2 separate regions of the Homo sapiens genome follow, and region 2 is linked to region 1. The links come from fine-mapping of genetic effects on gene expression. A gene starts in region 1. The other region holds a variant in brackets. All regions are shown on one strand. Distances are from middle to middle.

Evidence for each region.
Region 2: its variant is fine-mapped to the expression of NTN4 in caudate (GTEx, PIP 0.96).

What each region holds. Positions count from the first base shown.
Region 1 is chr12:95,786,179-95,794,747 of GRCh38, forward strand. NTN4 (netrin 4) reads right to left here and starts at 4,586. Exons shown (of 10, transcript NM_021229.4): 1 at 4,077-4,586; 2 at 761-1,290. The coding sequence starts at 4,131. It also overlaps the pseudogene RNU6-247P.
Region 2 is chr12:95,625,991-95,642,878 of GRCh38, forward strand. No RefSeq gene overlaps it. Among named protein-coding and RNA genes, the nearest start is that of USP44, 83 kb to the left of the region's middle. RefSeq lists an enhancer at 6,969-8,168. The variant T/C (reference allele first, on the strand shown) is at 8,107.

The DNA of each region.
Region 1 (8,569 bases):
GAAGTATTATATTCTCTTAATCTGCTTTTATTCAGTTTTCTCTGTTCTCATACACCTGAGGGTTGGGGGGAGCCTTTCAAGGTATTGCCACATAAGTTAAGAAGAGCTAAAAAGAGACCTGTTTCTCCCTTAGGAGAAAGGAATATTAAAGAGAAAACATTCCACATAGAAATTGGATCAGTAGCTAATGAGGCTGTTTTGCAGAATGAGTTTAAGATGGCCTAAGCTGAAATTCATGTGTCTGTGAGCCCAGAAGAACCTTTGTATGTTAAAAGAAACTACTTTCATTTGTTTGCTACTGTCATACAAAAGTATCCTTCTGTCAAACAGATTTTTTTTTCTTTCTTGGCTTTGTTTTTATTTACTTCCTATTTATATTAACACTATCAGGAAGATACCCGTGTGGGCTCCAGGAACAGACTGTCTCAGTAACTCTTCCCCCTTCAGAAGCACAGTAAGTAGTCCCGAGAACTGAAGCAATGAGGAGCCTCTAGAGTGATGATTTGTGTCTGCTCTTTTTTATATGTGAAAAATTTGAATCTTAGAATACTGACTTAAACCCAGCCAGTGGGCAATCTGCTTGAAAATGACTACACATTCATATGTAAGGGTAAGAAATAATTTATGACAAATAAATCTCATGAAAAATTCTAATTTCATTCATGTTGCTACAAGTATAGCTTCATGCTTTAAAAAAAAATGCGGGCTGGTAACATTTTTCTATCTTACTTACAGTGTAGAGTTAAACAGGTGCCCTTACCTCTCCTCCAGTGCATGGAAAAGGACTGGAGTATTTAGAAGTACAAATAGCGCCCTTCTTGACAACATCATCTTCCAGGCCAAATGTAGCGGAGCAGTTAGTCGCAAAGTACTTATAAGGCTTCCATGTTTTCCCAAAGTCCTGGGAGCGGTCCAGCACCATGGCAGCCGGCCTGGGGGACTTGAACATCACAATTAGGTGAGTGAAGTAGAATTCAGCTTCCAGGTCTAACTGGATCTTTTCTCTGTGCACATCCTCCGCAGACTGCCACCATGTGCGAGGAAACCGGAAGGATGAGTCTGCCATGGCAGATGGCAGGTGAGCCAGGTGAGGATAGGCAGCATTGCACTTGTCACATTTGGGCTGCCGACAAGTCAGATCCGTGTTCTCACTGTAGAAGCAGTACAGTTCGGTAGCATTCTGACCGCAGGTGGTGTCTGCCCAGAGTTTTCGCCCCAAAGCCAAATTTCCCATCCGAGGGTTGCAGGCTTTTTCACAGCGGGAACTCACTCCAGCTACTCCACTCAGTCCTAAGAAAGGGAAAGCATGCATGATGCAAGACAAACCCATCTGGAAAGCTCTTTTGGCCACCTAGTCCATCAACAACAGTCAAGGATCTCCCCAAAAGCGCTTGAGACTTTCGATAAATGGCAAATTCTACCATGCTCCACCATGTTCCTGTTTGAGCATGAACACTGTTCTGCATTCACAATGCATTCGTGTATGCGTGTGTGTGTGCGTGTGTGTGTGTATTTGCTTTTCATGTTCAGATGTAAAATTCACATCACAGAAACAAACACTTTAGGCAGAGGGCAAGAGGAGGGAAAATAGAACCACCAGGGTGAAGATTATTGGCCTAAAACTTTTCAAGTACTTTGCCTTATAAATGTTTTCTGTATTTCAAATACATTGATGTGTTTTTGAAGTCATGACTATTGAAAAACCATAATGTTTTTAAGACCACCTAAGTTAGTCTTTCAAATTTAATGTGAGTCCTTCACATGATTTAACATGTTTATTATGAGAATGTATTTAGAAGGAAATGTGGAATTCTATTTTCTTTATATTTTTAAGCCAGGGAAGGGATAAATTCCCTAGGAAAAGCAATATGAGATATTTAATAAATATACAATGGGTCCTCATTTAGAGGGAGGCAAAGCTAGAGACCTTTGGAGTTCAGATGTGCACTATCAGTTTCTAACATTACATAAACATAACTAAGAAAAAAACTCTCTGAACTGCCAAATGGCAGAAAAGCTTATTTTACATGCTGTCTCTTCAGGGTTTCTACCTGTGACAGGTTATAGAGTAGTTAACTGTTTGCTTAACAGGAGAGTGTCTACAGTCTGGCAGCCACTAACAGCACCTTTAAATATTATCTGTGAACTACAAGACCTTCTTTAAAAAACACACTTTTCCTCCCAAAGGTCCAACAGACTTTAATGTTTTAAAATGACTTAAAATGATAAACATTATCCACTTATTAACATTCTGAGTACATACTATAATCCTTTGATTTGCGTTTGTCATTTTAATTGTGAATACCTTAAGCAAAAATCATCTATTTTAAAGGTTAAAACAGAGGGGGAAAGAGGGAAAAGGAAATCAACCCTTAAATTCTGGCTAATTGAATGTTTCTGCTGCTTAAGAAGCAGTACCTCTGAACTGTTGTCATAGTAAGGATTGGAGGAGGCCAAATGACAGCTTAGGCTGCAACAGAGACATTTCACACACTGACAATGGCCAACCCCACGAAGCCTTGCAACTAAAGGGCTTCCTTAGGCATTATTTTTTAAATGTCAAATTAAAGTGTGCATTATGCCTGGGTTCTGTTTGCCACTTTTCTCATTAGCTGGGGCAACAGTTGCTTGTGGCCAGAAGCACACAAACACACAATGTGCTATGACTCACCTGTAAAAAATTTCAAGGAAAATCATATACTGCCTGTACAAGTATTTTTGACTTGAAACACTTGCCTTGTGATGTTTATTTACAACCTTTCAATGGCTTGCATGTTTTTGCCATAATATGGTTTGAGAAGGAAAAGGTTTTTTTTAAAGCTCATATTTTAAGAGTGCAAGAATTAAAGTAAAATCTTAGGCCTTTAATAGGTCCCTGGGAAAAATATCCAATAATTTTAAATGCCCCTAAACTCCTAAGTCCAGAAAAGATTTGAGCCAGATAAAGAATCCATGGGGCAAAATACTTGGAGTCACTCAAGGGACTATTCAATGATACTAAGGATGCTCCTGTGACTTGGACTGGTTTGGGATGCAGACTGGAAAGCCTGGATTTTGCTGGGTGCCAGCGGCCCTCAGGGAAGAGTGGAAGCCCAAGGGAGGAGATGCGTGCTACAATGTTCTGTAGCCACCAGCGCATCCCTCTAGCCCAGGCGCCCCTTTCTGAAGCAGTCAAGATCCGCACGAGAGACTGGATGTCTGCAGACTCCCTCACATCTCTCCCCCTCACCTACAGGGCTGCGCTTACGCCTAACTGGAAACCAGGTGACCCGCAAGAGGGAGGGAGAGGAGCAGAAGGGGCTCCCGAATACAGAAACCACGAGCCAGGAGCCGGTGGCCTAGGGCAGCCCAAGAAAGCCAGGATGGGAGTGGGAGGGAGAGGGCATCTGCCGACGCCGACGCCGGTTGTCCAGTTACCGAGCCAGGGAGCAGACCCGCCTCCGACCTCCCGCAGAGTCTCTGCCAGGGTACCAATTCCCCAGGGGCGGCCAGCCAGCTCAATGCAAGCCCGGGGTGATCACCACCTATCGTCCAAGCCAGGAGTCCCACTGCGTTCCAGTCACTGCTCCGGGGAGAGGGCGCTCAGCCCTGCCCCAGGTGTCCTTACCTGGTTCTCTAGTACCCAGCACCAGGTCAGGGACACCAGCGATGGGCTTCTACCAGAGACCGGCCCCAGCCCACGCGCGCCCAGGGTCGCTGGGCCACCCCTCCTCATCATTCCTTAGGCCATGAAGTGCCGGGGGATGGCGAGCTGGGTCCTTTGTTCCCTCACCAAGTGGAAAAGCAGTTTTTTAACAAGCCAAACCAAGAAAGAAACCCCGGTCGCAGTATCCCCGGCAGGGCGCACCCAGGATAGCTGGTTATCCAAGCGCATGTGTATCCCAGTTGTAAAAATAAATCAATAGTATTTGAAACTGCGGAGCCCCGGGGAAAGGAGGCGGAACATGGCCACTCATTTCACCCTCGGGAGCAGCGCTCTGCGCTCGCAGCCCTGGCTCCCCTGCACCCCCGAGTCCCGAGATGGGTTAGAGAAGCAGCGAGGGAAGGGGTGGGGGCCCCGCCGCGTCACCACCCACCTGCGGCCACCACCGTGCAGCCCCAGAGCAGCAGCAGCCGCGCGCAGCTCCCCATGGCCGGGAGGAGCCGGGAGCAGCCGGGCCGGGCGGGTGCCGGAGGGAGCCGAGACCTCTGGGCTGCGGGATGAAGCGCCGCCGTCCTCGGGAGGGAACGGGGCCCTGGTTTCTTCCTCCTCCTGGGGCGCCGGGCTCGGTCAGCGGTCGCCGGCAGCTGGGAGCCAGGGGCCGGGACCGCGCGGGGAGGTGGGGTGACCCTCGCGCACCGGCCTGGCGGGTCCCGGGCACCTGGGGGGCGGCGGGAGCCCCGGGACCATAGCCGGCCTGGCTGCGCTGCCCCGCGGAGCGGCCCTGCGGGCTCGTCTGCCGCTAGCCCGGGGCTCGGCGCCCGCAGCCGCCGCTGAACTTTGCGAGACCTTTCACTTCCCGGCCGCCGCCGCCGCCTCCTCCTGGGCGTCCTCCTCCGCTTTTCCCACCTCTTCTGGCTGCCCCGGCTCCGTCCCGTCCTTCTCCACGGGCAGTTCCATGCGATGCATTTTTATTGCACCGACGCCGCGGCGCTCCGGTGCCAGCCCTCCTCCCCTCGCACCTCCACCCCTTCCTCCCGCCCGCCCCCCGCGCTTGACAGCCCGGGCGGCGCAGCCCGCGGGATCGGATCGCCGCTGCCGCTGCCGCCCGGGGGGGGGGTCCCCCGCGCCCCGACCGACGCCCCCGACGCCCGGCTGCCCGCTGGTCCCGGTCGCCTCAGCCTGGCCCCCGGCTGCCCTGGCGCCCCTCCTGGCCCGCGCCCTGCATCTCCCTAGTGACCCCCCTGGTGCCCTGCAGCACCCACAGGCCTCCCCTGGGAAGCAATCTCCCACCTTCTCCCGGAACATTCCTAAGAGCAGTAGACTCCCTCTAGATCAGGTCAGGGCATGCCAAGGGGCTTAAAAAACCGCGAAACAGGCTAGCGCCTACTTCCCACATCCCCCAGCGAAACAAGCCCTCCCTCCTCCTCCAGCCACCCCCTCTCGGGGAGTCCCACGACCCGGGGACGGAACACCCCAACCCAGCCCCGCGTCACCCGCACTGAGAGCGCGCCAACTGCTAAGCGGCGTTCGCCGCTTCTCTGCTGCCTTTTGCGGGGGTAGGGGGATGTCTCGGCTAAACAATCGCTGCCTACATGATCCGAAGGTGTGCCCACTTTGGTGTAAGAGGTATTGCCTAACTCAAACTCAAGGTGCTGAAAGAAAAGGGTCACAGGATTAGCTAGTCGGCAGTGTAAGAACATCGTTGTCCAGAGGCAGGGCAAGGGCACGACAAAGGGAACTCTTCGGTCCTTCCAAGCGTTCTCCCTTTATAGAGTATGCCGTGCTGTGAAACAGTGTTAGGAACTAACTTATGGGGAGCAATTTAGTAGCAACCACACGCAGCTAATTGCAGATAGGATTGCTCAGGGCTGGTGCTTCTGGAAAGAGATTAAATAGCAGCCGAGTCTGAGATTTTTGCAAGTTCTGTGAAAATATAATTCTACTTACACATCCAGGGAAACTGGCAAAAGTTAAGTCGACAGCAATTTTGTATTGCAGTGCTCATTTTGTTCCTTTGAATATTTTCCAGAAAATTAACTACGTTCCAGATACCATTTAGTCGTTGTGTCTGTTACAGATGAGGATAATTCAGAGCTTTGGGATACATGTAGATATTATTTACAATGACCCAGCCAGGAACATATAAGAAGTTTATATCTCCCAGGGGGATCTGGGTTGAGGTCAGCATAATCCATTTGGGCGACATTAAAATTATTCTTCTGGCCAACAGAGGAAAGTAGCAGAAGGTGTGGACAGCAATTCATGTAGCATCACCTGCTTTAGAAAATAAACGCTTTGAGTTCCCAAATACTGGCAATGGTGGGGCTTTCTTCATATCTCCTAATGGAGCCATTGAAACACCTCTCCAATTAATCTTTTTACCAAATAAATGATAGGAAACTATAACAGCCAAAGGTTCTTAGCATAAATGTTAACTTAATAGCCAAGGCAAATTAAACAAAGGGGTGGATGCACATTTATTATTAACTTCTGAGTCTAGTATATTTAGGCAGAACTAATCCATTTCTGTTTTTTAATTAACAAATAAACTTGTATGTATTTATCATGTACAACATGATGTTTTGAAATATGTATACAGCGTGGAATGACTAAATCTAGCCAATGAACATATGCATTTTTGCATATTAACATGCATTTAAGAATACACTCACTGTCTTAGCATTTTTCAAGAGTACAATATATTGCTAAAAATATAGAATGCTTCACAAATTTGTATGCCATTCTCATGCAGAGGCCATGCTAATCTTCTCTGTATTGTTCCAATTTTAGCATATGTGCTGCCAAAGCAATCACAGAACTACTCCATATCTCATTACAAATTTCAAAGCCATTTACTGTCTGCACGAATCCTGCATTGATAATATATTTCTTTGCTGAATAACTGGCTCTTATTTCCTTTAACAAGACAGAAAGCTCTCTAATGGTAGAACAGTCTTTAATATTCAGTTTATACAAAACATTACTATGTTTTTCTGATATTTTTCCTTATTCTTAGCCAAGAACACCTACAATAAGTGTTCATTACATGTTTTTGACTGAGTTGTGTTAAAACTATTGTTATATACTAAGGGGCTAAGGAGACTAAGGACTAAGGAGAAAACCAGTTATATCACAATGATTTCCCATATTCAAAAGGAATCTGCACATTCGACACCAATACTATCTATATGAAAAGCTCAGGAGAGAAAAATAGTCAGCATTCTAATAAACATCATTTGCTTATATAGTCCAGTTTAGTTACAAAGGATATTTTCATTTTGAAGAAGCTATCCAAGAAAAGGTTACCTACATAAGAAAAATCTTGGATAAGTATATTATTGCCTATGATTTTGTTTTTGAAAACATCAGTCATGGATTCAGAATATTTTGTAATTTTATGAATTAGTAGGAAGCTTAGCAAACTTACAGAATTTCAATAACAATTCCCAGAAACCACAAAATTGATAAGTTAAATCTAGAATATTCCTGAGAACTTGAAAGGAAGTTAAAAGGGTCTTTAAAAAGTAAAATAAATGGCATAGCCAGGCGTGGTGGCATATGCCTCTGGTCCCAGCTACTTGGGAGGCTGAGGTGGGAGGATAGCTTGAGCCTGGGAGGTCGAGGCTGCAGTGAGCTGTGTTGGCACCACTGTACTCCAGCCTGGGCAACAGAGTGAGACCTTGTCTCAAAATAAATAAAATAAAATAAATGGCAAAACTCTTTGCACCAAAGACTTTACTCACAGGAGAGCCCTTCAGGACCTCACTTAAATCATTCATGTATTTTTATTAAGTTTGGTTATGACATCTTTCTAGATCACAGCCTATTAGAAGTAACAGATTAGAATGGAGCAGGATGTTATTAAAGACAGGGGATAAACTGAGGCAATCCAGTAATGAGAAGGATGGGAAAACTCTAAAAAGCAGCCATAAGTACAAAAACAAAACCAAAACATCCACAGCAGTCTGAGGCCTTCTAGTGCAGAAACAAAGGACGAAAAAGCTATAAAGGCATCACTCTCCGGTAACTTAGTAGAGTAAGTGAGGTTCCTAGTGGAGCGTAAGACATTCAGAATCAGGAGGGACCCTTGAGCCCAACTTCTCACTCCATCAAAACCCCTTTCCACAAAGCCTCTGTCCAAAGGTCATCCAGTTTCTGTTCTAAAAATCTCCATAAACAAGAGCCTCAAAGGCAATTCTGCTCATTTTTGGCACTGTTGTTCTATTTAAGTGGGATGTTTCTCTTCTTAAAATTCTGTGTTTATAGGTTAGTCATCTGCAACCATACAGAATAAGTCCAATTTCTCTTCTGGTAGGTATTCAATGATTTAAAGTAAAGTTTTAATAATTTTCATCTTAACTATCCTTTTAGTTTAAACACCCATATGACAGGATTCCCACACTTTTCACCATCTTAATCACCTCTTTTCAGATATACCCCAGCTTGTCTTACACTGTGCATGTAGAACTCAACTCCAGGTTTGTCTGATCAACATAGAATAGAACTAACATTTTCCTTAACTTAGCTCTATGGCTTATATTTCTGTAACCTAATGTGATGTTGGCTGGTATATTTGAAGTCAGCTAAAATCCTTTTTTCATATATTGGTATCTTACAGAGTCATCAATAAAAGGTAAAATATATTTTGTTTTACCAGAGGGAAATATTTCCATTAAAATACATTGCATGTAGTAAGCATTCAATAAACATGAATTTGAAGAATAAATCAACAAATTTAAGCTGCTAAGTTTGAAAAATGGTTACAAATTTTAAAAGAAACTTTTAGTTTTCAAAGAACTAATTACCTATTTTCTGAAAAGGTGATCACTTTTATGGAAAATTTGACTCTTCAACAATACCATTTGCAACTGGCATTATTATACATTTCCAAGAAAAAGAAAGACTCTGAAAATAGTGATATTTTTA
Region 2 (16,888 bases), 160 kb before region 1:
ACCTCCCATCTCAGCCTCCCGGGTAGCTGGGATTAGAGGCGCATGTCACCACGCCCGGCTAATTTTTGTATTTTTAGTAGAGACAGAGTTTCATCATATCGGTCAGGCTGCTCTCAAACTCCTGACCTCAGGTGATCCGCCCGCCTTGGCCTCCTAAAGTGCTGGGATTACAGGTGTGAGCCACCGTGCCTGGCCTTGTTATTATTTATTTATTTATTTATTTGAGACAGGGTCTCCCTCTGTCTCCCAGGCTGGAGTGCAGTGGTGCCATCTCAGCTCACTGCAACCTCAGCCTCCCAGGTTCAAGTGATTCTTCCGCCTCAGCCTCCTGAGTAGCTGGGATTACAGGCGTGCCACCACAGCCCCGCTAATTTTTTTTTTTTTTTTGAGACGAAGTCTCGCTCTTGTCCCCCAGGCTGGAGTGCAATGGTACTATCTCCATACACAGATAATTTTTGTATTTTTAGTAGAGATGGGGTTTCACCATGTTGGCCAGGCTGGTCTCGAACTCCTGACCTCAGGTGATCCGCCTGCCTTGGCCTCCCAAAGTGCTGGGATTACAGGCATAAGCCACTGCGCCCAGCTGTCATCATATTTTTTATTGTGGTAAAATATAACATAAAACTTACTATTTTAATCATTTTTAAGTGTACAGTTATTGTGGCATACTGGTTCTAAATAGATTCTTAGAGTGCAAATACTACCCTGGGGGTGGGGGGTTCTCAAAATTCTTTATGCTAAGGATCTTCAGACCTACTGTGGTTGGAAATCATTGGTAGTCTATTTCCTAATAAGAAGTCATCTAATCTTGCAGGAGTTTGAGACCAGCCTGGACCACATGGTGAAACCTTGTCTCTACAGAAATTACAAAAATTAGCTGGCATGGTAGTGCATGCTTGTGGCCCCAGCTACTTGGGAGGCTGAGGTGGGATGATCATCTGAGCCCAGGGAGGTCGAGGCTGCAACAAACCGTGATCATGCCGCTGCACTCCAGCCTGGGTGGCTGAGTTTGTTTGTCTCAAACAAACAAAAACAAAAAGAAGTCATCCAAGCGTGACTATTTCCATTGTTGTGTGTCTTCAGGGAGTGATATGTTTAATGCCGATAAAAGTGTTACAATGTTCTTCCTTGTACTGACTTGAAACCTGTCTCCCTGTATTTTCCCATTGGTCTTATTGATTTTAGTTTGAGGAAATGGGATTAGTACATTATGTCTTTTTCCAAAGAACAGCCTTTATCAGTGGCTGGCTTTTCATTTTTTTTCCTTTAAAAGCAACTTACTATAAACTAGAATCTTGGTCAAATCTAACCAAAATTCCTCCTATTGTAATTTAAAATGGAAAAAATTAAAAATTTTGCTCTTTCTATCAATTCTGGACCTTAAAAGACATGGCTAACTATTAAAAAAATATATAGGGTAATTCAGGGCGCTGAACCCAAACTGGCAACCCTCGCACAGCATGTGCTACCTCTAGCGTGTGCTTTATTGTCAGAAACTTAATTCCCAGAGGTAGGACAAACACAGGAGATGAAGAGATGTATTTTCGAGTGGAGAGCTGTGGTCCGCTCCCATTCCCTTTATCTGCAGATACTTCTTGCTTCCTTCCCACCTAGTGAGATTTGTGCCTTCTTTTTGAGGCAGGGGGTGGGACCCAACTCCGGAGGCAAGGCTTGGACACTGGACCAAACTGAGGACCAGCTAGTTCCAACCCATCTGGTCTGCTGATCTGGAGAGTGAACACGTCCTGCCTTTGGGCCCCTTAGACCAGCTATCCAGAGATTTTTACTCCTCCAGTGCTACGTGGGGCCGACTGCCCATGAACTCAGTAGGAAGCAGTTACAGAAGATGGACCTCCGCCCTTCTGCAGCCCCCTTGAGATTAAGGAGTTATCTAGGCCGGGCGCGGTGGCTCACGCCTGTAATCCCAGCACTTTGGGAGGCCAAGGCGGGCGGATCACGAGGTTAGGAGATCCAGACCATCCTGGCTCACACGATGAAACCCCGTCTCTACTAAAAATAAAAAAAATAAAAAATAAAATAAAAATAAAAATAAAAAAATCAGCCAAGCGTGGTGGCGGGCACCCAGCTACTCAGGAGGCTGAAGCAGGAGAATGGCGTGAACCTGGGAGGCGGAGCTTGCAGTGAGCCCAGATCACCCCACTGCACACTGCACTCTAGCCTGGGCGACAGAGTGAGACTCTGTCTCAAACAAACAAAAAAAATGGAGTATCTAATCTCTGAGCAGGGAGTGAGGCAGGAGGAGGACTCGACTCCGGAGGCGGGGCTTGGACACTGGACCAAACCAAGGACTAGCTAAAACAGGTCCTGCCAGGCACGGTGACTCAGGCCTGTAATCCCAGCACTTTGAGAGACCGAGACGGGCAGATCATCTGAGGTCGGGAATTCGAGACCAGCCTGACCAACATGGAGAAACCCCATCTCTACTAAAAATACAAAATTAGCTGGGCCTGATGGTCCGTGCCTATAATCCCAGCTACTCGGGAGGCTGAGGCAGGAGAATCGCTTGAACCCAGGAGGTGGAGGTTGCAGTGAGCCGAAATCGTGCCATTGCACTCCAGCCTGGGCAACAAGTGGGAAACTCCTTCTCAGAAAACAAAAAACAAAAAGCAGGTCCTGGTGGAAGCAGCTTTCTGTAAGACACACCCACTAGTGTGCCATGTCAGATTACCATTGCTATGGCAACACTCATGTTGAAGCTACTGCCCCTTTCTATGGCAACAACTCTGATAACCCAGAAGTTACCACCCTCATCCTAGAAATGTCTGCATAAACTGCACTTTAATTTGCATATAATTAAAAGTGGGTATAGATACGAGTACAGAACTGCCTGTGAGCTGCTCATCTGGGCACACAGCGCATGGAGCAGCCCTGCTTTCTAATGCCACCACTCACCCTTGGATTCTGTGAACCCCAAATATCTGAGACAGATCTTAGTTAATTTGGAAAGTTAATTTTGCCAATAAATAGGTGACACAGCCTCAGGAGGGCCTGATGACATGTGCCAAAGGTGGTCAGAGGACTATTTGGTTTTATACATTTTAGGAAGTCATGAGATATCAATCAACATATATAAGATGAACATTGGTTTGGTCCAGAAAGGCAGGACAACTCTAAGTGCGGAGGGGGCTTCCAAGTCATAGGTAGATAAGAGACAAATGGTTACATTACTTTGAGTTTCTGATTAGCCTCTCCAAAGGAGGCAATCAGATAGGCATTTATCTCAGTGAACAGAGGGGTGACTTCGAATAGAATGGGAGGCAGTTTTGCCCTAAGCAGTTCCCAGCTTGACTTTTCCCTTTAGCTTAATGATTTTGGGACTCCAAGATTTTCCTTTCACAATTCTTTCCTGGGTGAAGCTAAGAACCCTCCTGGGCTAAACCCTAATTTTGGGGCTTGCCTGTCCTGCATCATTTTCAGCCATGTGATAGGCCCTCCCATTCAACTAGACTCCTGGCTTTACATTTTGATGAGGAATTATTATACTCAGAACACAGTGGGCCTAGTCCTAGGTCACACTCCAATGAATGCCAAAGGAAGGTTGACTACTGAGTCAAAGACAAAATAACAAAACAAGCCGGTTGGAGCTGCCAGTCCTTACTTGGCTGCCTCTTATGTTTCTCTGATTACCAGAGCCAGAATTAGCTATGAGTGGGAGACCACGCTCTTTTTCTTCACCTCCCACTGCTTGTTGATTCACGTGGGCATTTCAAAAGGATTCCCAAGTCCAAAATAATTTGCAATGAATACAAATATACTTCATTTCTAATTTTGGTCTTTTTTTTCAGTTCAGTATATGAAAATTCATTTATTTAGTGAAACCCTACATTAAAGCATCCCAACACAAAGCAGATTCGACTGTAACATAATTGGTGATTGGCTCATCTCATAGGCTTATATGATCAGTGTGTTAACATACAACAGGACTGTACCCTTTTACATGATTGAGTGTTTTGGATCTCACTCACACACAAAAACCCTGCCATAATGCTGTATCAATTAGAGCTGTTCAAATGTGAAGCTGCATTGGAAAATGGGAAACTTTATCACCATATATATGTATATTTTTTGAGACAGAGTTTCGCTCTTTTGCCCAGGCTGGAGTGAAGTGGCATGATCCCAGGTTTTATTAAAGTCTGCAAAGGGATTTTGTACCTGATAGTTAAATAAAGTAATTAAATAAATACACTTTCTTTAACTGTATGGGAACCAATATCTAAATGTGACTTTTGTACTTGCTTTCAGAAGTCACTTCTTGGACAAGATCTTGAAAGTTTAGCACCTTGGTAGTTATTTCCACAAGTGATCCTTTGGCAAAACTTACTTATACCATGGTATGGAATCAAAAGGAGCTATCTTAACCTGGTTTTCTTTTCTCTCATCTCAAAAAACCACTTCTGCTCATTCAGAATTTATCAGTATCCCTGTAATTCTTTTTAGTCTTGTTCTAAGAATTACCTGACAGTATTAATAAAGGCTGACTAGCTTTAGTTATGACTCCAGAGTTGGATTTAGCTAAACCAACCCAATTAGGCCATCAGTGCTAAGGGCAGCATCGGCCTTTCATAGTGACAACCGGCCTATCCCCTTCCTTTCCACCAGGCAGGAAGGAAACACTTTTGTCATTTCTAACCAACAAGGAAACATTTTCTGGTTGCTCCTTAACAGAAAACAGGAAATTCTGTTGGTCATTTTCCCATGGTAATCATCTAAATACCTATCTCTTGATAGATCCCAGATAATTCTAGGACTGGAAGAGAAGCCTCAGATCATATGGTCCGTTTCCATGACAGCCCTTTATACCCATATTAAAAAGTCTAAGTCGGCTCTCAGCCATCTCCTCACCATATTACATGGTATTTTCTCTACGGGAGTTCATAGTATTCACCTCCTCTCTTGGAAACAAAAAAGCATTCCTCTTACTCCTCTCTGAAGCACTGGAGAGTGTCCCCAGTATAGTATTTGATGTCTTTGCATGTAGAGGGACAGTTTTTTCAAAGCAAAAGACAGAGGAGAGGTGATGGGGAAGGAGGAGAGAAGAGAGAGAGGGAGTAGGGGAGGAGCAGGGGAAGGGGCAGAAGAAGAAGAAGAGACTGTTGCAGATAAAAAGAGACTTGAGGTCAAGCGAGGTAGCTCACGCCTGTAATCTAAGCATTTGGGGAGGCCAAGGCGGGTGAATCACCTGAGGTCAGGAGGTTGAGACCAGCCTGGCCAATATGGTGTAACCCTGTCTCTACTAAAAATACAAAAATTAGCCAAGAGTGGTGGCATGTGCCTGTAATCCCAGCTACTCAGGAGACTGAGGCAGGAGGATCGCTTGAACCCAGGATGTGGAGGTTGCAATGAGCTGAGATCGTGCCACTGCACTCCAGCCTGGGCGACAAGAACAAAAAAACTCCGTCTCAAAATAATAAATAATAATAAATAAATAAATAAAGAGAGACTTGACAGCCTTATCAGCTAACTGCAATTGATGGGCCTAGTTTAGATCTTGATTTGAGCAAAATAATTGTAAAAGGATACTTTTGAGATAGTTGAGAAATCTGCACATGGACTAGGTACTAACTAGATGATACTAAGAAATGATTGCTAGTTTTGTTCGACACAATCATTGTATTGGAGTTATGTTAACAAAAACTTCTTTTCTGTTAGGAATACAAACTGAAGGATTTATAGTTGAAATGATAATATATCTGGTATTTGCTTTAAAATATTCCAGAAAAACAAGATAAAATAAGATTGGATAAATGCTAATTACTGAAACTATGTACAATGAACTAAGATTCATTACTTGCTTTACAATTATTTGTATATACTTAAAAATTTCCTAGGATACAATTTTCCGGGTTGTTTTTTAAGAGCAAGGAAGAGCACATCTTTCTTTCATTTTTTCCCCACTGTTAATTTTTTGTTGTGATTATTCTAGTGGCAGAGAAGACATATTATTCAATCCAGGTCTTGCCTGTATTATTTATTTATTTATTTATTTAGACAGAGTCTCCCTCCGTCACCCAAGCTGGAGGGTAGTGGTGCGATCTCGGCTCACTGCAACCTCCACCTCCCAGGTTCAAGCAATTCTGTGTCTCAGCCTCCTGAGTAGCTACGACTACAGGTGTGTACCACCATGCCTGGCTAATTTTTGCCTGCATTATTTTTAATAATGATAAAGTAACTCAATAGTTGATCACTAAATCGAATAACTACAAGGCTGGTTTTTTTATTTTTTATTTTTTAGTGCTAACTACTATATTTCATGTGCTTTATATTTAATTAATAAGTATAGAGGAGGTTATTTTTTCCTTTTGCAGTTGAGGAAACTGAGGCTCAGAGAGGCTACAGTAACAACTGCAAGGTTAATAGAGCCAGCAGATGATGAAGGCTGAGATTTGGAAACAGATCTAGTTCCCAAACCTGTGCTTTTTGCACTATCATCTTACCTCTCATTCTGTTTGTGGTTTGGGGCCTTGCTAACTGGTGACAGCCAAGTTAGCTGGCAACTAAGAGTGAGTTTCTTAAAATGTAAATCAGACTATATCACTTTGCTACAGAAAACCTTCCAAAGACTTCCAGACTGAGTAAAATCCCAATTATTTTCAGAAGCCATAGGGCTCTTCCTGATCCCCTCCATCCCTGCCACCCCATGCCCCTCATCTCTTTCAACTACCACTTTGCTCGCTCTGCTGCAGCCTGGCGCAATATTCTAAGAACTTTTCCTTAACTGTCTAAGCTTCCTGCTTAGGCCCTTCCCTTGATATTCCCTCTGCCTGAAATGCTCTTTCCCAGATACCACATGGGTCACTTTCTTCCCTCTCCCCTAATTTCCTTCAGTCTTTGCTCAAATGTATTCTTCTTCTTTTCAAATACATATAATTTTAAATTTTATTTATTTATTTATTTTTGAGACAGGGTCTCACTCTGTAGCCCAGGCTGGACTGCAGTGGCACAATCTTGGCTCACTGCAGCCTCCGCCTCCCAGCCCCAAATGATCCTCCTGCTGCTCTGTCTTCAGCCTTCCAAGTAACTAGGACCATGGACGTACACCATCCCACCCAGTTATTTTTTATTTCTATTTTTTGTAAAGACAGAGTCTTGCTGTGTTGCCCAGGCTGGTCTCAAACTTCTGGCCTCAAACGATCATCCCACCTTGGCCTCCCACAGTGCTGGAATTACAGGCATGAGCCACTGCCCCCTGCCCTTCCTTATCTGTGTTCATCGCACTCATCACTACCTGACATTATTATGTACTTATTTATTTATCTATTACCCCTGAGTAGAGTGTAAACTCGGTGAGGACAGCAGTTTTTTCCATTCACTGCTGTATCCCTAGCACCTAGACCAGTGCCTGGCACACAGTAGCTGCCCAGTAGTACTTGCTGAATCACTGAATGACTCTCAACCTCATGAGTGCGGTGCTGTGAGTCACCGGGTTACTACATCATGCCCAGACTGGGCAACCTGGGGGCGCTGAAATGGAATCACCGGTAAAGATCTGCAGCTTCCTCTGTGATGTGGGTGTGGTGGGAAGATTTGCATTCTGAATCCATCATTTCCTTGCTGCCGGACTGTGAGCAAGTTTCTCAACTCTCTGTAGTCTTCGTTGTGTCATATGTAAAATGGAGATAATAATTATTAGATAATTACATAATTATCAGATAATTATGTAGAATACTGAAAAAGTTATCCAGTTCAAACCTCCTTTTTATGGTAAATCAGAAGTTCCCCCTCAGCTCCATAAACTTCATTTGCTTTCACAATCCCAGACATCTGATTAGGCAGCCAAGAGCTCTGAGAGGCCTTTGGCCGGAAACTAAGGATTTATGAGAGCCAATGTTCTCTGTCTCTCCTGTTTGAGCATGTAGATGACATGGAATAACCTCTCTGATGTATTGAATTCGTTTCTCCAGTGTCGTTTATGCTGCCAGATGATCACTTCCCAGTTTGATAAAAATCACTTCATAATGGGGATTAGATGGTACCAAAATGACAGTGGTCTCTGCTGGATCTGACAAATTCTCTCTCTCTCTTTTTTTAACCCCAAATCTCTAGTATGCCAAAAGTTTGCACAAAGGCTTATTGTTGTTATAATTG[T/C]CTAGGACTTAATAAATTAGCTATTGTCCTGAGATAACCTCAAAACTCCTGGCTAGGAGGTTAAAAACGATTTTTAAGGGAGCATAAATATGGACACACTGGTAAAAAAGTTTTTCATCCCGTGTAGCATTTTTTTTAGGTTTGAGTGGAAAGTGGTGTGTGACCACAGGAATGTACATTAACAAAAGCAGTAAGCTAATTAAATAACACACAAATGTTGTATTGTCTGGGTATTAATTCTTCAAGGTCATGTCTTAGTTTATAATGGCAAAGGGAATTTATTAAGGGAGAATTATTTGACAGGAATCTTTTTGTTATTATAAGTTACATGCAGGTTAAGATAATCAACAATATTTTTTCTATAAGAACCATAAACAAGAGAAATCCTGCAACATATACTTCTTGCTTATTACATTATGGTGTTTAGCTTACAGGAACTTGGGAGGAGATAAGAAAAAAGAAGAGAAGAGGAGAGGAGGCAAACACTCATTGGGCGTTGTATTCGTCTGTTTTCATGCTGCTGATAAAGACATACCCAAGACTGGGTAATTTATAAAAGAGGTTTAATGGACTCACAGTTCCATGTGGCTGGGGAGGCCTCGCAATCATGGCAGAACGTGAATGGCACGTCTTACATGGCAGCAGGCAAGTAAAGAATAAGAACCGAGCAAAAGGGGTGTCCCCTTATAAAACCATCAGATCTTGTGAGACTTATTCACTACCATGAGAACAGTATGGGGGAAACCGCCCCCATGATTCAATTATCTCCCACCAGGTCCCTCTTACAACACGTGGGAATTATGGGAGCTACAATTCAAGATGAGATTTGGGTTGGGACACAGCCAAACCATATCAGATGTTAAACTGGAGGTTAATGTTCTAGTCAGTTGGCTATAGCGAGAGAGACTGAGAGTTGCCCTAGTTTCTGAGGTTTAATACCTAACAGAGCAGGAAGCAAATGAGCACTGAGCCATGTGTGCACCTTTTTCCTGCCATCCTTAAACAAACATAGCTGCAGTCCAAGGGTGCAAAGGTGGGTTTGGCACTGGAGCTGGGTTTCCTGGTGACTTTACTCTCTGTCTTGGCATTTGGTCTGTGTTTATAGTCAAAGCAACAGACATGAGGTAATGAAGCAGAGAAGGGAATCACAGAATAATGACCATAACATAAAGGCACTGTTTACTCTGAACCTTTTGAAGGATGGAGGAGGATGTGAGAGTCAGCTGCATTGCATCTGCCTTGGGGTCATCTGCGGCCTAGACTTGCTCTATTCTGTGTCCATGATCACCCAGTATTACACCACAGCTATTGGAGGTCAAGGGGGCTGTGAAAAGCATGTGATGTAATCACCCTTCCAGGGATTCCTGTTGAGACTAGTGATGATAGCTGAGTGCCAGGAACTCCTTGGTAGTGGGCATAAAAAGGTGCTTAATAAATAGTTGAGTAACTTGACTCTTACGCAGCCTATAGTCATGGTCTCCATTCCTTTAAAAATATAACCCAGGGTATGGTAGGGCTACACCTGGGGAACTGAGAGACTGGGGACTAGTGTTACTAATGCATCCTTGTTTCATCTGGAGGTGACAGTAGGGATAGGATTCATTTAGGAAAGGCAAATAACACACTGAAGGACATGAGGCTACAAGAGAGACAGTGGGCCATATCCCACCTCAGGGACCCAAAGGACACAGTCTAAATGGCAGCTTCAAGTGTGACAATTTGAGATGGAGTTTTGCTCTTGTTGCCCAGGCTGGAGTGCAATGGCGTGATCTCGGCTTACTGCAACCTCCGCCTCCTGGGTTCAAGCGATTCTCCTGCCTCAGCCTCCTGAGTTGTTGGGATTACAGGCCCCTGCCACCATGCCCGGCTAATTTTGTATTTTTAGTAGAGATGGGGTTTCTCCATGTTGGTCAGGCTGGTCTCAAACTCCCAACCTCAGGTGATCTGCCCGCCTCAGCCTCCCAAAGTGCTGGGATTACATGAGCCACCGTGCCCGGCCTCCTCTACTAATGTTTTAGGGACTTACACAAGTTTAGTTCAAAAAGACTTTTTGGAAAGAGCTATGAAATATAATCTATTGCAGCAGTATGGAGACTCAGTGGAGAAACGGCTATGAGCTACCCTTTGACGAAGGTATTGCAGAGCACCTCTAAGAAGTAACTTTTTTTTTTAGAAAAAACTTCTGTTTTAGGTTCAGGGATACTCGTGCAGGTTTGTTATATAGGTAAACTTGTGTCACAGGGTTTGCTGTACAGGTTATTTCATCACCCAGGTACTAAGCCTAGCACCCAGCAGTTATTTTCCACTCCTCTCCCTCCTCCCCTCCTCCACCCTCAAAGGAGAACCCAGTGTCTGCTGTTCCCTTCTTTGTGTTTATGATTTCTCATCATTTAGCTCCCACTTATAAGTGAGAGCATGTGGTATTTGGTTTTCTGTTCCTGTGTTAGTTTGCTAAGGATAATGGCTTCCAGCTCCATCCATGTTCCTGCAAAAGACATGATCTGGTTCTTTTTTATGGCTGTGTAGTATTCCATGGTGTATATATACCATAGTTCCTTTATCCAATCTGTCATCAATGGGCATTTAGGATGATTCCATGTCTTCGCTATTACGAATAGTGCTGCAATGGAAAGCAGTGTGGTGATTCCTCAAAAAGCTAAAAGCAGAACTACCATTCAAGCCAGCAATCCCATTATGGGTATATACCCAGAGGACTATAAATCATTCTATCATAAAGACACATGCATGTGAATATTCACTGCAGCACTATTCACAATGGCAAAGAAATGACTATGAGATGTTAGTGACTAACTGCCAAGGCAACAAGGGACATCAGAGCACATGAAGCTTTGCCAGTAGGGTAGGCCATGGCAGGAGGGAACAGCATGGAGCCTGAGACTAAAGAGCCTGGTCCCTCTTGAGCACAGTAATCCAGTCTGGTTATCACAAACTGAAATAAATCCAATAATGGAATAGTCAGAGAGCAGAGTCTGGAGTTCAAGTTGTTTCTGGACCTGCATAATGTAACGTAACGTAACGTAACGTAACGTAACGTAACGTAACGTAACGTAACGTAACGTAACGTAGCGTAGCGTAGCGTAGCGTAACGTAACGTAACGTAACGTAACGTCAGAACAGGCAGCTCAGAGTGGCTCTGTCACCAGGCAGGTAGCATGGCTGCTCTCAGAGGCAGAGATCACCAAAGGATTCAGTAGCAAGGAGTGCAACTAGAACCCAGTGGTGGAATCCGAGAGCGTGCACGTGTCCCTTTACATGGGAAAAGACTTCCCAGTGAGCCCTTTTGGCAAAAGAGGCACCAAATTGAGGAAAACAAATTGTTTCTTAATGGCAGTGACACAGAAGAGTTAGCAGTTTCTGATTTTGCCAAATCCAATCCTTCGTTAACAGCATAAATCAGGTTAAAGTGGAATATTTGTTTTCACGTTGTTTGTTGTGATTTGAACACTGATGTCATTACTTCCTCATTTCCAGTTTTATGCTTTTCTCTATTTCCCACTGGAACCAGTCAGCTAAAGAATATTTGGCTGGTGGACAACAGGAAAATACCATGCATAGCAACTGAATATGTATGTGCTATGGAAAAATCTCCTGGCCCTATAAAATCAACAAGGAAAATTCCTAGCACAGATGCAATAGTGACTTCTCACGTTAACTATAGTTCATTTCACGTAATCCTTATGTTCTAGAAACAACATCTGTTCATCCTGCTGTAGATCTGTTGGAAGCCCAGGCGTGAGAATGCAGGAAAAATTTTCCAAGCCAAATTACTATGTAATACTAATAGTGATACTTCATTATGTGAGACACTTGTTGGCGTATTTTTCTTTTAGGCTTCTTGCAAAATGGTGCAGATGGTATCACATAGTGGAGGTAGTGGCTGCTTCTCGGGATCAGGGCTTGCTTACATGCTCTCCCCACCTCAACTTTCTGCTAAGAGTCACTAGAGGGGCCAAGTGAGACTTTAGATAGGACCAGCATTTGCACGAGGTGGAAGATCTCTCCAATACCACACCTGAGGTGAGACAGGAAGAAGAATAGAGCCTACGCCAGTAAGTCAGGTGCTGTCACCATGCTTTGAACTCCATGGACGTTTAGCAGGCTGTGAGGAGTCTGGGAGGGTGGACAGGAATGGGACCTGGGGAAGGAGAGCAGCAGGAACTTGGGGGGACAGATGTGCGCAGGAGCCTGGAATTGTGAGCCTGGTCCAATAGGCCAGGCTGTGGTTCCCCTCGAACACAAGAGGGAAGGAGATGCCTCTGCTTTTCCTCAATGAGTGAGTGCTGGGATGGAAAGTGGAGCAGAGGGTCAGGACCCAGATTGCGATTAGAAAGTTATCATAAAGCCACTAAGGTCAATCAGGCAAGGAGGAAGCAAGCAAGAAAGATGCCAACAACTAGTCGGGCATGGTGGCTCACGCCTGTAATCCCAACAATTTGGGAGGCTGAAGCGGGTGGATCTCTTGTGGTCAGGAGATCGAGACCAGCCTGGTCAACATGGCGAAACACCCTCTCTACTACAAATACAAAAATTAACCGGATGTGATGATGCACGCCTCTAATCCCAGCTACTTGGAAGGCAGAGGCAGGAGAATCGCTTGAACCTGGGAAGCAGAGGTTGCAGTGAGCCAAGATCACACCACTGCACTCCAGCCTGGGCGACAGAGTGAGACTCTGTCAAAATCAATCAATCAATCAATCAATCAACAACTGCAAACACCAGCAGCTTAATGTAAAAGGACCCCAGGCCCTCCGGAGAGGTTAAGTTCTGGGCAAGAGGCCAGACCAACAGAACCGGGATAATTGGCTTTTTTGCCACCACTTTCTTCTCTCTCTAAGCCATCTTATATTGCATTTGGATTTTTCTTCCTAAAACAAAACTTGAGATACATTACTCTGTGCTCAGAGAGGTTTGGATGACTCCCTTTTGCCCAATGGACCAAGTTCCAACTCCTTAGCCAGGTGTTCAAGAGCTTTGACAATCTGGCCTTCAACAACCTTTCCAACCTTATCATCCACTGCTCACCTTCCTAATCCTCCTATTCTGGAGAGAGTGGTGTTTTTTCATTGTCCGCACAGAATTTGCTTTCTTGCTCTCTGAGAACCCAGGATGAGATGAAAACCGTCTCAACTGTCTTCTCGTCTTGCCATAGGAAATCTGGATTTGTCGACCAGGCTGCCAGTTATGGTAGCCACTTCTTTGCTCACATGTGATTTCACGTCTCAGCAACATTTGACAGTCTTCTTCCTGAAATCTCACTCTCTCATTTCTCTCACCTTCTCTTAATTATTCTCCAATGGCACTTGCTGCTCTTTCTAAATCCTTGTTTGTTTTTCTTCTTGTGGTTGAGCAGCAAATGCAGAGGTAACTTAGGGATTTGTCCAAGGCCCTGTTCTTTGCCTACATTCTTTTTTTTTTTTTTTTTTTTTTTTTTTTTTGAGACAGACTCTCACTCTGTCATCCAGGCTGGAGTGAGGTGGTGTGATCTTGGCTCACTGCAACCTCCGCCTCCCGGGTTCAAGCAATTCTCCTGCCTCAGCCTCCCAAGTAGCTGGGACTACAGGCATGTGCCACCACACTTGGCTAATTTTTTATATTTTTAGTAGAGATGGGGTTTCACCATGTCGGCCAGGCTGGTCTCAAACTCCTGACCTCGTGATCTGCCCGCCTCGGCCTCCCAAAGTGCTGGGATTACAGGCATGAGCCACCGCGCCCAGCCCTGCCTATGTTCTTATCCTGGTCATCTCATCTGTGGTAGACTATATTATGGATCCCAATTTTATCCTCTCTCCCACTTCCTGCATCCAGGGTGTCATCTCAGGCAGAATATACTTCTGCCCTTGATGTGGGACTTGGACGTGTAACTTGCTTTTGGTACTAATATATTGACAGAAGTACAGGTGTATCATGAGCCCCCACCTTTTATTTATTGTAAATTTTTATTTTTATTTTTTTGAGACAGAGTCTCACTCTATCGCCCAGACTGGAGTGGCACAATCACAGCTCCCTACAGCCTCAACCTCTTGGGCTCAGTCAGTCCTCCCACCTCAGGCTCCCAAGTAGCTGGGACTACAGGCGTGTGCCACCAGGCCCGGCTAATTTTTGTATTTTTGGGTAGAGACAGGGTTTTGCCATGTTGCCCAGGCTGGTCTCTAATTCATGGGCTCAAATGATCCTCCTCCTCCTGTTGGCCTCCCAAAGTGTTTGGATTGCAGGTGTGAGCTACTGCGCCCGGCCCCCAGGTCTTTCTCAAGGCCTCCAGTGCTTCCTCTTGAGCCATCGCCATTGCCTGGCTGGCCTGTTGGTCCCAGGAGGATGAGAGACAGAGTAGAGCTGCCCACCTGACCCACAGACCTGCAGACAGAAGCAGAGATGCCTCACTTGAACCCCGGGCAATCTGCAGATGGCAGCAAAAATCAATGGTTTTACAACACTGAGTGTTGGGAATGGTAATGTAGCAATAACAAATCAACATATCATCGGTTTACTTATGCCTTCCAAGTACAGATGTTCAGCCTTTGACGTTGCTTCTTTTGTGCTCTAGACTTGTGTATCTGGCTACTTGGCATCTCCACTCACTGGCTAACATGCATCTCAAACCAAAAGAATCCATGATGGAACTCTTTATTTTCATGCCTAAATCTGCTCTTATACCATCATCCTTCCAGTTATCAAGCCAAAAAACTAGGAGTCAGTCTTCATTCCCCTTTCCTTCATTTCCCACGTTTAATCCATTAGCAAGCCTTGTGGGTTTTCCTACAGAGCACTGCATATAAACACAGCCACTTTTCTCTATCTTCATCCACATGCCACCTCGTGTTTGGAAAACTTCCGTAACCTTTTAATGGTTCTTTCTGCTTTCATTTTGGTTCTTTCTTCAATCCATTCAGCTAGCGGGACCTTTTTTAAAAAAATAAATCCCTCCCATTGCTACTCATCATTTTCTAGAATAAATCTAAACTCCTGCAAGGTTCTCATGTTCTGGCCCTTGCTGGCTTCTTCAGACCTCATTTTATGCCATGCTCTGGCCTCATGGGTCTTCTTGCTGTCTGCACTTCAAGTGCTGCCAGCTTGTTCTGACCTGGGGATATCACACTTGTTATTCCCTTTAATAAGAGTGTTTTCTCCCATCTATTTATTTCTCCTATCTATCTATCTATCTATCTATCTATCTATCTATCTGGAAGTCTACCACCTTCTCACCATATGGTTATCAGCTTAAATATTACCTCCTCAAAGAGGTAATATTTAAGGTGTGACTGTTTTATTTTAGGTAGCTCCCACTCACACTATCTGCAAACTGAGTGTGTGGCCGATACTCCTGCAATGGAGACCTGGCTGCTGCAGCTGCTGGAGGGCCAGTGGCAGACAGTCTCCAGCTGTCAGCCCCTATAGGAATTGCTTCAGCCACAGAGAGATTTCCCCAATGCCATGCCCCATCCTAGGGTGGCCAGCATCCAGTGGGATATCTGAAGGCCTGTCTGCCTCAGGTCAACTTGGGATGACCCTGAAGGGTCATTCCACTTCTGCCTTCCTTCTGGGGTTGGCTGAGGCTATCACTAGGCATGCTTTGCAGCTCACCTTCTCTCTCTGCTCACTTCCAGTTTCTCCTCCCGCTCTCCACTGACATTGACACTCCTTGATAAATGCTCTGCATGCTAAAGTCCATTTCAGTGTGGCTTTCTCCACGGCAGTGAAGCATCATTTCCTTCTCAGTGTTTACAAATCTTTGAAATTTTGTTTATAGGTTGGTTGTTTGTTTCTCTTACTAGAATCTAAGTTATATGAATGTAGGGACCTACCTGACTTCTTTACTCCTGTGTCCTTAGTGCCCTGACCAGCCTGGTATGTCATTATCATCACTGTAGCAAACACCTGGTATTGATGATATGCCAGACACTGTTCTAAGTATATTCATCCACTTTATCTTCCCAACAACCTTGTGAGGTAGGTGCTAGTATCTTCTCCACGTAGAGACTGGGATGCTAAAATACAGAAAGCTTAGTTGGCTAGCCCAGGGTCACACAACTGGTAAGTGACAGGGCCAGTGTTTGAACCCAAGCAATCTGGCTCTAGATTACACGTACATAACCGCTCCATTATGCTGGTTTTTTTTTTTTTTTTTTTTTTTTTTTTTTTTTTGCAGCGGCTGTTCAATAGATGTTTCTTAAATGTTTGAATAAATAAAAAATAGCTGGGTGTAATCTGAAGACATCATCTAATTATTCATTTAATGACTATTGTTTGAGCACCTACAATATGCCAGACACTGTGATCTGCCTGGGGATGCAATGTGAACAAAGCAAACGGGACCTCTCCCTCAAAGAGCTTGCACAGTATGAAGGAAGAGAATAGACTATATATGACAACGATTATATCATTGCACATTGTTACCTACTGGCCATTATCCAAATGCATGGTTTCCTTTTCAGGCAATCGGAGTACCACTTATCCACCCAGACCTCTTCTATAGGGTATACTATCAGCTAACAGGACCATGGTGACAGCATTTCCTACAGTCAGTGATTAAAAAAAAAAAAAATTGAAGGGCACTTACCTTTCTCAGCCTTAGCAGGAAGAAGAGAATGGGGATGATGAAGCTTCTGTTGCTGATGGTGACTAGCTGTAGGGCAGAGGTCCCCAACCCCCATTAGGAACCAGACCACACAGCAGGAAGTGAGTGGCAGCAAGCAAGCTAAGCTTCGTCTGTATTTACAGCCACTCCCCATCACTTGCATTAACCCCCGAGCTCCGCCTCCTGTTA